2 separate regions of the Homo sapiens genome follow, and region 2 is linked to region 1. Evidence: fine-mapped expression QTL. A gene starts in region 1. The other region holds a variant in brackets. All regions are shown on one strand. Distances are between the middles of the regions.

Region 1 (8,349 bases):
GACAAGAGGACATGGAAAATGTCAGTGGCCCCAGTGCATCTGTGCCAGCCGCTTTGGCCTCCTGTAGGGCTGCGCGGTGACTGGGAGCTAAGGGCTCCCCTCTTAGTTGGTCCTGGCTGGTGCTGAAAGCGCTTGAGCACACCGCTCCTAGGGCTGACGACTTCTGAGGAACCTTATTTTAAAAGCATTTTGCTTTAAGATTCAGTAAACGCTGTCCCATGCCAAGGAATTGGCGTCAACCTGAGGCTCTGGGATCAGACCCACCGGACTCAGGCCGGCTCTGCCACGTGTTGCCCGCAGTCTCGGCCCGTTCCCTCCGCATTGACAGCGGGCACTGACTGTCCGATACCCCAGCGATCGTAGGAGAGCAGAGACGTTCCTAATGCCGCGGGCACCACGGGCGGGCCTGCGGGTCCGTTGGCTTTCCTGACACACTTCCTACAGTCATTTCTTTCAGCTGAGATCTTCCCCTTTAATACTTCGTTAATTTGTGGCAGGACGAGTCGCAGACAAAACTCCTCAGACACCAGATTAAAGAAGGAAGAGGTTTTTTATTCGGCCGGGAGCGTCGGCAGACTCGTGTCTTAAGAGCGGAGCTCCCCGAAAAAGAAATTCCTAGGCCTTTTAAGGGCTTACAACTCTAAGGGGTCTACGTGAAAAAGTCATAATAGATCAAGTAAGCGTGAAAAACGTGACTGGGGGCTACATACATCAGCTAACAGAACAAAAAGTTTTACAGTACTTTCTCATACAGTGTCTGGAATTTACACATAACACCAATAGTTTTGGTCAGGGGTTAATAATATTATTATTATTTTAGCCACCAGGGCCAGGTGGTGGTGCCAAGGTCCTCCAGCTATTTATCTTACTTCTGTTTCTTTCTAACTTTTTGCTTTCTCCCTTTTCTCCTGTCTTATAAAATAGGGAATAGGAGAGGTTGGGGAGAAACTGAGAAGGACAATAGGAGAAGTGGTGACCTCATACCATAAATTAACGTGTAACCTTTTGGTTAAAATGTCAAAGCTAAGACTAAACTCGAAGAAAAGAATTAAATCACGGGAAGTTCTTCAGACTTAGTCGCCAGCAAGGTTATGGCCCGAAGTGGTGCAGGGGCGGCACGCGGGGAAGCGACTGGCAGAGCTGTGCGCACTGGGGGTGCTGCAGGCGCTGGGGAGAGTGTGGAGAGGCTGCGTGGAGCTGCGCGCTCGGGGTGGGGGCTGCACTCCCAGTGAAGCGCGTGAAGGGCGAGCGGTGATGGGTTCTGCGCCAGTGGGGCTGGGAGCGTGTGGGGGGCTGTACGTGCAGCTGCCGCAAGGTGGAGAGTGCACGTGTGGGCTTGGGGACTACGCGCACCGGGGGCTGAAGGCGTTGGGGAGGGTGTGGGGGGCTGTGCGTGGGGCTGCCCTCACTGGAAGCTGCACGCTCAGGGAAGCTCGGAGGCGGGGGTCCTGCGAGTGCTGGGGAGCACGTGGGGGGACACGCAGGGACTGCCCGCGCAAATGGCTTCGAACGCATGCTCCCCACCCCACATTTCACAGTCGCCATGACGACCAGGAGGTCCGCAAGGGCTGCGGGGACAAGTCCGTTGAGGCTGCCAGGCAAGTCAGGCCTTTCTGGACCTCGCCTGACTGAGCTGGGCTGTGCCTGAAATTGACCCAGCTCCGCCAGGGATTATAAGAAAACAAGTAGTAAGCTCAAAGCCGCTACAATCTTCCCGCCCTGGAGCCAGAGGTGGAAAAGTCGGCCCTATGCGGCGGGAACCTGCCAAGGGGCGCCCCAAGGTGCTCCACGCGGAGGATCCGAAATCTGAAAGCACAAAAAGGCTTGGAGCTACAGTTGGGGGCCAAGACCCTTCTTCTCGGCCCCTTCCAGTTCGTCCATAATTTCCTGGCGCAGCTTCGGGAAAAGGTGCACGAACTGCAGGCGCGGCAGTTCTCCAGCAGGACCACTCTTGGCATCGGTGAGGAGAGGGCAGGAGAGCCCTGGGAGGGAGCCGCATGGCGCTTTTCTTAAGTCTTGAAGGAGATCAGTTTAACAAGCAACGGTTTGTGGGTGCCTAGTAGCAAATAATAGCAAGGTCCGAGTAGAAAGCAGTTGGCCAAAGATCTTGCCATTGAACCAGGGGAGAGAGATGGGGAGTATATTGGTTTGAAGGGCTGTCAGATCACAGAGAGTGTTTTAAGGTCTAGGAGTTTTAAAGGCTGAGGGGAGGGATCAAGGGAAGAGGATGAGATTAAGATTCCAAGAGAGGAAATAATTAGTGGAGCAAGTCTTGGAATATTTGGGAGGGGTAGAATTAAAGGCACAAATTTGAGAAGCTAACTGTGGAAAAGAGGAGAGAGAATTCCTTTTCTGAGATGACAGGGAGTAGAAAAGTGAGGATTACTATATGGAGAAATGTTAAAGTGGAGATAAAAGAAGTCGGGAGTGCTGGCGTCTAATGGTCTTTGTTTCAGTGAAGTATGAGACTGGGTCACCTTCAGAGGTGAGATTGACAGGATGCCGGGGTCCAAGGGACATGCTTCTGTCACAGCTTGGAAAGGGCATGTGATAAGCCCTTCAAGCATTTAGAATACTGGCATCGTTACACCATATCATTTTTTTTCAGATGTGGTATGTGGGTTAAGGGAGGGAGTGAGAGACACAGAAAGATTTTGAGCATCTTTGGAAAGCTGGATGAATTCGGTAGTATATTTGACCTTTTCCTTATATATCATCTGAAGAGTTTTTGCCAGTGTATATAATTGTTAGGAGAATTAGAAATAGGATACAAATATAGTTGAATAGGATAGTCTCTGTATATTTTAAAATTAATGAAGCCTAATAAACAGTTAATGAGCATATTTACAAAAATTTAAAGTTTTCAGCCTTTTAAAAATTATAGCAACTGTGCTTGCAGACAGTCCAAAAATACACTGTGGGCCATACTTTGCCTATCCTGGTGTAAAACAAGTAAATCTTCTGAGAAGTATTTAAGATAAGCCCAGGGCAGTTAGTAGTATAGGAAAAGGTCTGGATAAGCATGGTTGAGAATTTCAACATTGCAATTTTTTAATTTTAAAAAATTTAATTTCTTCAACAATTATTAAATTAATTTGCATTTATTTTGTTAGCCAAGAGGAGTAATTTTTGAATTTTTAAGAGGCTATTATTGGTGGTTTATAAGACGACTTGCCAAGTATATTTGGGATAACCATAAGAAATACCATTATAAAATCTCAGAAGGGAGGTAGGACTTCTGGAATAGCCAAGGAAATGCACTCCTCCATGATGACAATGAAAATACTTGGAAAATTATCAAAATCATTTTCTTCAAAACTTTGGAAGTTAACCAAAGGTTTACAACAATCTAAAGGGCATTAATTCAAGAAAAGCTGCTGAACCTCTATAAGAACAGCAAAGTCTGTGGTGTTTTAACTTGTTCTATTCCCCACTTTTCTCTCTCCAGCTCCATGGTACCCTTGAAAACAAGCAATTCCCCAACGAAACAGGGGCACAGGCTGCGTTTGCAGCTCTGGTAAAAGCTCCATACCCAGAGCAGTGTCTCCCAGCTCCCTGGTGAAGTCTTACGTATACATGGGGTGCTGGCACAGGTGCCTCCAGATAAGTCTCCTAGGCCATCTAGTAGTTCCTAAGTCTGGGCGCTTGCAAAGAGCTTGCAATTCATCAAGGGTTGAGTTGCACAATGGGGCTTTTAGATGTGCTGCTGAGGAAGTGATTGCCTGCATTTAATCGTCTTCTGATGAATGCTAGAGAAACTGATCTAGAGTGGCACCTCTTGGTTAGAACGAGCTGAAGCATACTGTATATATTTACTTCTTTAAAAAATTTCATATAAAGGAATAGAATACTAAAAAGAAAAAAAAACAAAAAAGGTCACAATATTCCATAATTCCATCACTCCTACCAATTAACTGAAGTAAAAAAACCCTCTCAAGTCTCTCCCTTTGCTTGTCAAGCCCTGCTGCAGAGAGGTAAGCTCTGTTCAGAATTTACTTTGTGTCCTGGATTTTTTCCTATGCTCATAGAGACAGGATTAGCTGGCCATCTTGCTTTCTGTGCTATCTTTTCTAGACATGTAAAATAATACATTTGAAATACTTGTTTTAATGGTATTTTATAATAAAGCAGCTTTTAATAACTTTTCTCTTTTCCAGCCGTCTTTGTGGCAATTTTACATTGGTAAGATTTAGTTTCAGTTCGAAATATTTAAAAACATTTGAATTAAAAATTGCCATCACTCTTTGCATACAGTAAAACAATAACTTCTGGCTATATTTGTAGAACATCTTTATGTACGCCATTTTATACATATATTTTGCTTTTTTACAAACCTCATATGTGAAACAGCATTTACAAAATAGATGCATTGGGGGAATAGTAACTTATGAATTAAAATATTTTGGCTTTACCAAATAATTCACCACGTTTTTAAAAATATCTAGCTTTTCTAGTGTATTTTGCATGTGTAGTTCATTTAAAACCCTCCTTTGTTTTATGGTAATTATATGTTGCTAGTGAAATAACTTTTTTTTTTTTTTTTGAGACAGTCTTGCTCTGTCTCCCAGGCTGGAGTGCAGTGGCGCGATCTTGACTCATTGCAACCTATGCCTCCCAGGCTCAAGTGATTCTCGTGCCTCAGCCTTCTGAGTAGCTGGGATTACAGGTATGCGCCACCACACCCAGCCAATTTGTTGTATTTTTAGTGGAGATGAGGTTTCACCGTGTTGGCCAGGTTGGTGTCAAACTCCTGGCCTCAAATGATCCACCTGCCTTGGCCTCCCAAAGTGTTGGGATTACAGGCATGAGCCACCACGCTCAGCTAGTGAAATAACTTTGGTGATAAAGTTTTAGTAACACCCGCCAATTGGAAGTCAGGTAAAAAAGAAGATAAAGATTCTGCAGTGGTTATACAGAGTTAAATGGCTTTGACTCTTTCAGTGTGCAAGGCTGTGTACATTATTTTACAAAAGTGTTTATAAAAATTTGTAAAATAATATTTCCCTCTGGAATATTTTATTTTTACCTGTGCTCAGCGATTTCTACCCTTGGAAGGTATGAGATCTGCCCCTATGTTCTATTGATACAGTGCTGCTCTAGACATTTAGTCTGCAGGGAGATTTTGGTATTAGAACTGAGGCTGCAATGCTAGGGAATATTCCTGCAGTTTTTGGTACCCTGGCATATGTCCTACATGTAAAGAAGGGTTAGTGGAAAACAGGGTTAATACATGGAACTTTGCTTTATTTTCAACTTCACTGGAAAGTACTGACTACATAAGTTAGCTATAGCATAATTGTTGACCACAGCTAATTTTGTTTATCACATATGCTCCTTTCTTCACTGCCTACAGCTGCTGAGTTTCACTACTAAAAGGTCTTCAAGTACACACCTGTATTCTTTGGCGCTTGAAAGTTGATCCTTTATGTGATATTATACTTATTGTAAGTCTGTTTTGATCTAAAGTAATTTTATTTAAAATTATATTCTGAACCCTTTTCAACAGTTACGGAGGTATTTCCCAAGGCTGGTACATTAGAATCACTTGAAACTTAAAAAACAAACACTAACCTGCCTCTGTTCTGATTTAGAGGCCTGGGATGGAAGGAAGGGTGAAACAAGCCACAAGAATTTTAGATATACAATTAAGTTGGTTTTTTTTTTTTGAGACAGAGTCTTACTCTGTCGCCCAGGCTGGAGTGCAGTGGCATGATCTCTGCTCACTGCAACCTCCGCCTGCTGGGTTCAAGCAATTCTTCTGCCTCAGCCTCCCTAGCAGCCAGGATTACAGACATGCACTACCATGGCTGGCTAATTTTTGTATTTTTAGTAGAGACAGGGTTTCACCATGTTGGCCAGGCTGGTCTCAAACTCCTGACCTCAAGTGATCTGCCCGCCTCGGGCTCCCAAAGTGCTGGGATTACAGGCATGAGCCAACGCACCCGGCAACAATTAAGTTTAAAAACCACTGAGTTAAGGAATTTCAGGTGTGTGCCATACTGCATTATAAATGCCTAAAAACATACGAGTTAGTAAGCAAATTATAAAAACAATATTATAACAATTTATTGTTTCCTTTTTTATGGCTTTCTTACTTATCGCTTATTTTAATGTTGGTTTTGAAACTTGTTCTTATTGTAATATGATACTTCATTGCACTGTTTCATAAGCTATAACCCAGGTTTATTATTTAAATAGTAAAGTGTTTGAGATTATTTTTCTGTTACTTCATTATCTCTCACCCTTTCCTAATGCAGACTTCTTTTTAAGATAATGAAGATGAATTATAGTAGCTGAGGAAGGAGGACAAAGAAAGCACTGAAGAAGTGATAAAGGGGAATGAAATGAGATGTTATCAGAAATTGCTTTTTCTTTGGCTACAGTTGGGAGGTCCCATGTTTTACTGGGTCTTTTACTGATGATGATTATTATTTGGTTCTCTTTTGATTTCAAGATAATCTCTTTTAAGAGATGACTTTTGATATAATTTTTAAATATTTTTCTGTTTTTCGATACTTAATCTTTAAAATGGAGTTTTCTGCCATACACATCTCACATAATTATTGTGAGGAGTAAATGGGATAGCGAATACCAAAATTGTGCAATTTTACATTTAGAAGACACCACAACCGTCCATCTTCCAGATCTGCTCCCAGCTGGTCGGGGGCCTACTGAAGCATTGAAGCTGACTCTCCTCACTCTAGCCATTGCTTTTTGTTTAAATTATGGTGAAATTTAGATTTAAGTTTGTAATAGAAAAATGTCAATGGTTATCATTTAAGCGTACAATTCAGTGACATTAAGTACATTCGTGTTGTCTTGCAACTATTACCACTGTCCACATCCAGAACTTTTTGCTATCCCAAACAGAAACTCCACCCACTAAACACTAATCACACTCAGCTCTATTTTCTATCTCTATGATTTTGCCTATGCCAGGCCCCTCCGTCACTGCTTTTTAATTTTCATCCCTATATTGCCCCTATAAAGTTTCAAAGCATTGGATACATTAACATATGTATGACATTTGAACATTTTAAAGAGAATATTTAATATTTCCCTAAATATAGACTTTTGCATATTAGATATCCTTTAATTATTGTATTGCTTTATCCTCCTAAGCAGAAAGGAAAATTCTTTATGAACTCATATTTTGCCAATCAACTATGAGGTAATGGCCTTTCAGACATCAGCTAAAACAGACGTTTAATTTAGTAGTTACTCGTGTTGGATGAGGCAGATATGATTATAGCATATAGCATTTTTTAGGGAGAATGCATTTTAAACAATGTGGCCCTTTTTTGCTTTTAGATTTTAGGAGCGAAAGCAAGAAATTGATGGGGAAATAAGACATAACATGCTATTGTTAATCCATGAATTTTAACTCAACAGCACTTTTACTATCCTAATGAAGCCTTTATTTTATATGCTGAAGTGTAAGACACTAAAATAATCTGCTTTTTAGTACATAGTATTTGTGAGCAACAATAGTCAATCAACATTGAGCTTTCACTTAGCACAGAGGATTAGATGGAGCTATGAATTAAGCTAGAAGCACTGGATTCCTTGCTCATGATGCTTATGGTCATTATATTTTATTTCCTAAGAGCATGGGAAAAAAAGAAGTAATTTTCTATATGCAAAGTTGTACAGAGGCATGAAGGCATCCCTGTTTATGACAGAATTAATCAGATGTCAACCTTCAAGCATCTCAAATGTGGGGGATAAAACCAGATTTGGGAAAATTGAACATATACTGTCTACACATTTTAAGACATTATTAGAGAAACTCTTTAAATCATTCGACCATCCCTCCAACTCTTTAGTTTGAAAGCCTATAGAAAACTTGAAAGAATAGTACAGTGATCACCTGAAAATACGTGCTTTTTAAAGTCCAAGAATGCAAAATAGCGAGGCGTAATTAGGAAGTCTTATTATTGACCTTTTTTTTCAGAAAAAAATGTTCTAAAGAAGTGATAAAAATAAATATTTTAAAGTTTTAATTACATTGACAACATGTGCCTTCTTTTTTTTTTTTTTTTTTTAAAGGGACTTTTATTCCTACTTCGAGACCAATATTGAAGCACCTTCATTTTTGGAAGGACTGGGGACGATAATGAATGACAGGCTTACTGAAATCCTCTTGGAATTAATGCAGTAAAATGCTTCCATCTTTATCCAGAGGTGAGTCATAATTTGAGACAAATAATATATTTATAGAGTGATCCTCTTTATCAGATAAAAATAGTAAGCACAATCTTTTTAAGAAAGGGAGGGGACCTTTCACGTTTATTAGTTGTGTGTATCCTTATAGTTGAGCAGAATATCATAAGTTCCTCTCTTAAAATT
Region 2 (8,349 bases), 110 kb after region 1:
CTCCCGGTTATCCTTCACAACTGAGCATTTCAGTTTGCATCTCAATGGTGTTCTTAATTTCTTCCTGCAGATCTGGATTTCCATCTGACATAATTTCTCTTTAGTTTTAAGAATTTTATTTAGCATTGTGATAAAGATATCCCAATAAGTCCCTTAGTTTTTGTCTGTCTAAAAATGTTATCTTGCCTTCATTTTTGAAGTATATGTTTGCTGCATAAGAATTATAGGTTGATAGCTTTACCTTTCAGCACTTTAAAGATGCCATTCCATTATCTTCTGGTTTCTACCGTTTTATAAGAAGTCAGCTATAATTTTTGTTGTTGTTCCTCTGAATGTAATGTGTCTTTTCTCTGTTGTTTGAGAATTTTCATTATATATTTGTTTTTTATTGGTTGATGGTGGTGAACCTAGATGTGCTTTGTTCATTGAACGCTTTTGTTTTGTGGGTTAGTTTTTATTTTTAATCAGTTTTGGAAAATTTCTAGCCAAGATCTTCTTTTTAAATACTTTATTTTCCCCATTCTTTCTCTCTTCTTCTTTGGGGATCCTAATTACATGTATGTTCAACTTTTTAAAAATACTATCACAGATTTTTGACACTGTTTTTTTTTTTTTCCCCATTTTTTTTCTCTCTATTCCTCGCTTTGAGTATTTTCTCTTGCCATGTCTAGGAGTTGATGGATGCTTTATTCTGATGCATGCAGTCTGCTATTATCACTCTCTGGTAAATTCCCTCCCTCCCTCTCTGCCTTCCTCCCTTCTTGCCTTTCTTTCTTCCCTCCTTCCCTCCCTCCCTCTCTCCCTCTCTCTTTCCCTTTCTTCCTTCGTTACTTCTTAGAATTTCCATTTTTTTCCTAGAGCCTCCATTTTTCTGTTGAAATTTCCTATCTCTTCATTCATCTCACTAATATTTTTCTATACATTTTAAAATCTAATTATCATAGTTATTTTAAAGTCTGTCTTCTAATGCCAACACCTACATTATCTGGGAATTTAACTCCATTGACTGTTTTTTTCTCTCGATTGTGGATCATGTTTTCCTGCTACTTTGCATGTCTCATAGCTTTTTATTTTATGCAAGACAACTTCTGTAAAAGAATAATAAAGATTGAACTAGATAATCATTTTTGCCTCAATTTCCCTAGAAAGGGAACATCTTCTTTTATGTCAAGCACCTAGGAAGAGAGACTGAGAATTTGGATCCCACATGAAGCCCTGCCAAGCAGGGCAGTAGTATAGTTTTAATTTGTTTTAGTTTACTTCCAGTTTCAAATGAACTACAGTGATCTCTTTTTTCTTTGTCTCAGTCCCCAACTTTCCAGATGCTCAACTTGGGATTCCTTTGATCTTACCACTCTTTAAACTGGGAAGGGGTTAGTTTTCAGCTTTTTAGTTAATTTTAATCCATCTCCAGATTCAGCCGTGGCAAGACCCTGGAACCTAAGCGCTGTGTGAGATTGTGATCTCACAGAGTTCTGACTTTCCCCTACTCCTCTTTATCTGCCAGATTCATGTGTGTGTATGTTTATGTGTGTCCCAGGTTGGGGGAGGGGTGGCTGTCACAAAAAATATTCATTTTTGTGTTTGTAGCTTTTTCAGATTCTTGTTTATATTGTTAGAAGCTGTTTGGTTCCAGCAAAGACTCTCTGCCTGTGGCAGATCCTTACATAAATTACGCAGTTGTTCTCAGGTGTGAAGGTAGAGCCAACAACTGTTTTATTATCTTCACCTGGGCTATGTCTAGTTCCCCTGTAAATCTTGTACTAAAAAGGCAGTACAAGAAAAGTACATTTTTCTCTACTGTTTTTTCTCCGGCTTTTTATTTTGAGCAAATTGAAACTTACAGAAATGCTCTAGATTCAGTTTCATTTACTAGTTTTAATATTTTGACACATTTGCTGTCTCTCTTATACAAACACCGACACAGACATTTTTCTAATCCGTTTGAAAATGAGCTACAGATATGATGAGATCTCACCCCTAAATACTTCAGTATATATTGCCTAAAAGCAAGACATTCTCCTACATAATCACAATACTGTTATCATACTTGAGAAATTTCACACTAATAATTATATAATAATATCTTAATACAGCCCATATTCTTATTTACATAGTTTAGTCCTATAAATTCTTTGATGCTTTTATTTTGGATCCAGAATCTGATTAAGGATTGTACATTGCATTTAGTTGTCATTTTATTTAGAAAAGTTTATCTCAGTCTCTTTTTTTTTCATGGCATTAACATTTTTGAGGAGTCTGAACTAATTATTTTGTAGAGGTCTGACATTTTGGACTTGCCTGATCGTTTCTTCATTAATAGATTCGGATTAGACCATTTTATTTTATTTTATTTTGAGGTAGGGTCTCACTCTGTTGCTCAGGCTGGAGTGCAGTGGCACAGTTTTGGCTCACTGTAGCCTCTCCCTCCCTGGTTCAAGCGATTCTTGTGCCTCAGCCTCCCGAGTAGCTGGGATTACAGGCATGTGCCACCACACCCAGCTAATTTTTATACTTTCATTAGAGACAGGGTTTCACCATGTTGGCCAGGCTGGTCTTGAACTCCTGGCCTCAAATAATCTGCCTGCCTCGGCCTCCCAAAGTGTTGGGATTATAGGCTTAAGCCATTATGTCCAGCCAGATTGGACATTTTAATGAAGAATATGGCACATATGATGTTGTGTCCTTTTCTTTGCATTACATCTGGAGGCACATAAAACCAATTTGTCCCATAATCGAATTTACTAAATTAAATCACACAGTTAAGTGGTGGTGTCATATTTCTCTATTATAAAAATGCCCTTTTTCCTTTTAATAAGTGAAATGTGGGATGATACTTTGAGACACCAATACCCTCTTCCTCTATAACATTTACCAACTGATTATGCATCCATTGATGATACTTGCCTGAATTAGTTATTACATTAGCCATTGCAAATGGTAATTTTCTAATTCTGCCATTTAATCTACATTTAATGGTGTTCTGTAAAGACAAATCCCCTGTCCCGCCATTTTCTTTTACTATATATGCATAGGTTTTTTTAAAATTTATTCAATGTTTTATAATCTGTTGCAAATCTTTTTGATGTTCTCATTGTCACACATTTAGCCGGTAGTAGTCTCCCCACATTTTAATTATATATAATTTTCATACATTAAGATTTGCATATTTTAACTGTTCAGTGGATCTTTACATATGTATACAGTCTTGTATCCAGGAACTAGATCAATGTATAGACTATTTCCAGCCCCCAAGCAGGCTCACCTCTGTTCCTGTCCAATCTGTATCCTTCTCCATCCTTCAAAAGAGGTAGCCACTCTTCTATCTCTATCACTATTGATTAGTTTTGCCTATTTGGTGGTTTCATATAGTGGAATCATATTTTCTTATGTCCGATGTCTTTCTCTCAACATATGTCTGTGATATATATCCACATTGTTTTCCAAAGTGCTTGTACCAGTTTTCACTCCCATTGGCAATGTATGAGAATTCCAGTTTCTTCTATCAGTATATCCTTGTCAGTGCTTGGCATTGGCAGTCCTCTTAATTATAGTCATTCTGATGAGTGAAATGGTACCTTATTATGGGTTTAGTTTGCATTTTCCTGATGAGTAATGATATTGAGTACCTCTTAATATGGCTTATCTGATTTAGATATTCTCTTTTCTTTAATACCTATCTGAGTCTTCACCCATTAACAAATATTTG[A/G]GTTATTTTATTCATATATGGGAACTCTTTGTCAATTCCATGGAGTTGTTTGTAGAATATATGTTCTACAAGTACCTTCTCACCACTTATGACCTGCCTTTTCATCTTTTTGGATTTTGTGATTGTATCTTTTTGTACACAGATCTTTTTGAGGTTTTTTGATGAAGTTCTTAATTTTCATGAAGTTCCATTTAGCAATCTCTTATGTGTAGTCTTTTTTGTGTCTGATTAAAAAGTCTTTGCCTACTGTAGGTCATAAAGATTTTCTCGTATTTTCTTTTAGAAGCTTGAAGAAAATATAAGGGAAAATCTTGGTGTAGCTTTCACATTTTGGTTTATAATCTGTCTAGAATCTTGTATACAGTATGAAATAAGTTCCAGATTTCTTCCTCCCCTACCCCACCCCAAATAGGATGTCCAGTTAACCCAGTACCATTTGTTAAAAAGAAAATTCTTTCCCCGCTGAATTGTAGTGGGCCTTGTGTCATAAATAAAGTGACTATATATTTTTGGATTTATTTCTACACTCTCCATTATGTTCTATTTGTCCGTTTATCTTCAAGCCAGTACCACACTGCCTTAAATATTGTAGTTTATAAGTTCGATATCTGATAATGAAGATCTCTAACCTTGTTTTTCGTCAGTATTGCCATAGCTGTTCCAGGTCCTTTGTGTTTCCATATAAATTTTAGAATCAGCTTGTCACTACTCCCATCTCTTTCAACACATACACAACCTGCTGGTTGTGTATTAGATCTCTAGGTTAATTTAGAATGGACATTCCTGAACATACTAAATCTTCCAATCCATAAACATAGATTTATATTCGTCTCCTTTAATTTCTCTTAGCAATGTTTTATGTTTTGCACATATTTTATTAATCTCTAGATATTTTATGATTTTGGCACTCTTTTCTGCCCTTTTGATATATCTCATTGTGTTCAGACAAACACTTCCTTTCAAACACAAAAAGGTTCCAGAAACAAATTATTCTGTAATACACACAAAATAGTTTCAGAGTTACTACACTAATGTCATTACCAATAACAATCCTACAAAGTATGGTTCAGTATTTCTCTACTTATTTTTCTCCTAAGAGTATATTCTACTAAGGAGGTATAGTCAGAATATAAAAGTTAAACAATTTAGAAGCAACCTGAATTGTTTTTATTTCTCCACATTGTATTATCATTTTGATAGTGCAATTTGAATCATTTGTTTCTGTTTCTATTTATATTGCCTTTATATCTTGGCTAATGCTTTCATTTTATAGTCAGAATTTTGGTTATGTTGATAACCTTGAGCAGTGTAGTTTATAACCACATGATAAAGGTGGTAGAGTTGATACTGATAACATCTTGCCAGATATATTTTCTATTTTAGATGAATAAGCAATGGTCAAGTTCGAGTCATTGCAACAATGGATGGAAACATGGAGGTGTACTCACCGCTTTTTCAACAAAGTTGACTGCTTTCACAGAGGTTTTTTGTAAATTTAGGATAGGATATACTGATATCTTAGATTTTCAGAGACAAAAAGATCAATGTTTTCTGTCATACAACCAGCTGAAATTCTTTATAAAGATAGTAAAGTTTAAAATAGCATTTACGTATCACTGACACATTAAACCCTGTGTGAGCCAAAATTGTATTATAAGTTCAGATTGAAATATGTAACTGGTTAATTGAGCAGCTTATCAGTACGGGCTGTGCATCTGTAATCTGAAAATCTGAAGTCTGAAATACTTGAAAAGTCCAAAACTTTTTGAACGCCAACGTGACTCTCAAAGGAAATTCTCACTGGAGCATTTCAGATTTTGGTTTTTTGGACTAGAGATGCTCAGTTAGTAAGTAAAATGCAAATATTCCAAAATTTGAAAAACTCTGAAATCTAAAACACTTCTAGTCCCAGCATTTTGGATGAGAAATACTCAACCTGTGTATGGTACAAAAATAGACCAAAACTCCAAGAAAGCAACCAGGCTTACCTGTTATCAAGATACAGTGCCCTGAGATGCACAAAGCCTACTCCAAACTAAGGGTCTTCCTAAATAATGGGACTGCCCTAAGTAGCATCAAACAGGAGATATTCAAGCCATGTCTCTTAAACCTAGCATTCTTATGGTTACTATGTGGATAGCAGGATTCTTAACACCTGTAACATTCTCTGAAGAGAGGTAGCATAACCTTCATGGTGCCAGCAGTCTTTTAAGGAAGCACTCATAAATATAGTGTTTAAAGCCTTATTATAGTTAATATTAAGCAATATGGAGCAATAGTGTAATCAATATAGAAAAGCAGCAGTCAGAGGTGGGTAATTTGTTTTAAACCTAAACATTATAGTAACAAGTTAGGATTGATCCAGCAAATAGCAACTCTAGTAAAAACTCTTGGAATAAATCTTAAACATGATCTGTTTGATACTAATATTAACCACAATTTATAACTCACTAGTCAGGTGTTCTATTTATTTTGAAGTTATGAAGATAAATCAATTAGATCATGCTGTATTTCCAATATTATAAGTTAATAGTTTGAAAATAGAGATTGGAAAATTAAGCTATTTTTGAGATTCCTTAGTTATTGATTCTTGAGTGATTGATTAAAAATTATTAAGCAGAAAAGAAAAGCCTCTTGTTAATATCTACACAGTATTATGTTGCAATATAATCAGTGTTATGAAATGTGTGATAAAAATTATATACTAGGTGTTAGCAGTTTGAAACATGAGATTTTTATTGAATTTATTTTCACAATAAATGGATTTCTTGTACTTAGAGACAACATACATTTGTATAAGCCTTTTTTGAAGCAGTTCACATGTATATTTCCTTTAATTCTCAAATTTCAAAATAATGCCTTTAAAAAGCATTGGCATTTTAAACTGTCACACTTTTTATTTTGCATTTAAAATTAGAGATAAAGAAAAAATATTTATTTGTTGAAACGTAAGGCATGACTAAACCAAATCTCTTCACTATTTTCAGATTATATGAGATTATCTGGAATGGCAATTATGTTTGTACCAGATCTAGTAAAACACATTGTGTTATTGGAGAAACAATAGAAAGCACTTTCATGGACATTTGAATTCATATACTCAGAACTTTGGAGGGAGAAGACCTTGCCCTTCATTACAGTCCTGTAATTGGGTTTTCTTGTCCCTACTTTCAGAGGATGTAATTCAGTTTTGTTGAACTGAGTGACTTCAGCTATTAAATGCAACGAATTTCGGAGGAATGATAACGTCATTGAATGTGGGTAACAAATGTGGGGGAACCGTCCATATGAAGAAAATTCTCAAATTGTACATTGCATAGTTTGAATACTTGCTTGTTTGAATACTTGTTTTTGTACAGACTGATGACTTTGCAAATTTTGATCATACAGGCATACTTCAGAGATATTGTAAAGTGAATATCGTAATAAATCAAGTCATAACAAATTTTTTGGTTTTCCAGTGCATATCAAAGTTATGTTTACACTGTACTATAGTCTATTAAGTGTGAAATAGCATTATGTCTAAAAAACAATGTACATACCTTAATTTAAAAATAAGTTGCTAATCCCAGCATTTTGGGAGGCTGAGGCAGGCGGATCGCCTGAGGTCAGGAGTTTGAGACCAGCCTGGTCAACATGGTGAAACGCTTTCTCTATTAAAAATACAAAAAAAATTAGCCAAGTGTGGTGGCGGGTGCCTATAGTCCTAGCTACTTGGGAGGTTGTGGCAGGAGAATCGCTTGAACCCAGGAGGCAGAGGCTGCAGTGAGCCGAAATTGCACAGCTGCACTCCAGCCTGGGTGGCAGAATGAAACTCCGTCTCAAAATAAACAAACAAACAAACTGCCAACGATCATCTGAACCTTCAGCAAGTTGTTCAGATGGAGGGTCTTGCCTTGATGTTGACAACTGCTGACAGAGGGGTTGCTGAAGATTGGGATAGCTGTGGCAATTTCTTAAGGTAACGATGAAATTTGCTGCATCGATTGATTTTTTCTTTCATGAAAGATTCCCCTGTAGCATGTGATGCTGTTTGATAGCATTTTACCCACAGTAGAGCTTTCAAAATTGGAGTCAGTCCTCTCAAACCCTGCCACTGCTTTAGCAACTAAGTTTATGTCATGTTCTAAATTCTTTGTTGTCATTTCAACAGTGTTTACAGTATCTTCACCAGTAGTAGATCCCGTTTCAAGAAACCATTCCCTTTGCTCATTTAAGAAGCAACTCCTTATCCTTTAAGTTTTATCATGAGATTACAGCAGTTCAGTCACATCTTCAGTCTCCATTTCTAGTTATCTTGCCATTTCCATCACATCTGCAGTTACTTCCTCCACGGAAGTCTTGAGCCCATCTAAGTCTCCCATGAGAGTTGAAATAAACTTCTTCCAAAGTCCTATTAATGATGACATTTTGACCTCCTCTCATGAATCAGAATGATTTTAATGGTATCTGAAATAGTTAATCCATTCCAGAAGATTTAAATTTCATTTGTCCAGACTCATCAGAGGAATCACTATGGCAGCTAGAGCCTTATGAAAGATATCTCTTAAATAATAAGACTTGAAAGTTGAAATGACTCCTTGCTTCATGGGCTGCAGAATAGATGCTGTGTTAGCAGGCATGAAGGCAACATTAATCAC

The links. PIP is the estimated chance that this variant, and not a neighbour inherited with it, causes the effect.
Region 2: its variant is the best candidate, but not a certain one, in a credible set for the expression of LINC00997 in whole blood (INTERVAL, PIP 0.58).

The regions. Positions count from the first base shown.
Region 1 is chr7:32,755,109-32,763,457 of GRCh38, reverse strand. It overlaps LINC00997 (long intergenic non-protein coding RNA 997), which reads right to left and starts at 5,172. Exons shown (of 1, transcript NR_036501.1): 1 at 534-5,172.
Region 2 is chr7:32,642,122-32,650,470 of GRCh38, reverse strand. It overlaps the pseudogene DPY19L1P1. Among named protein-coding and RNA genes, the nearest start is that of MIR550A2, 87 kb to the left of the region's middle. The variant A/G (reference allele first, on the strand shown) is at 3,710.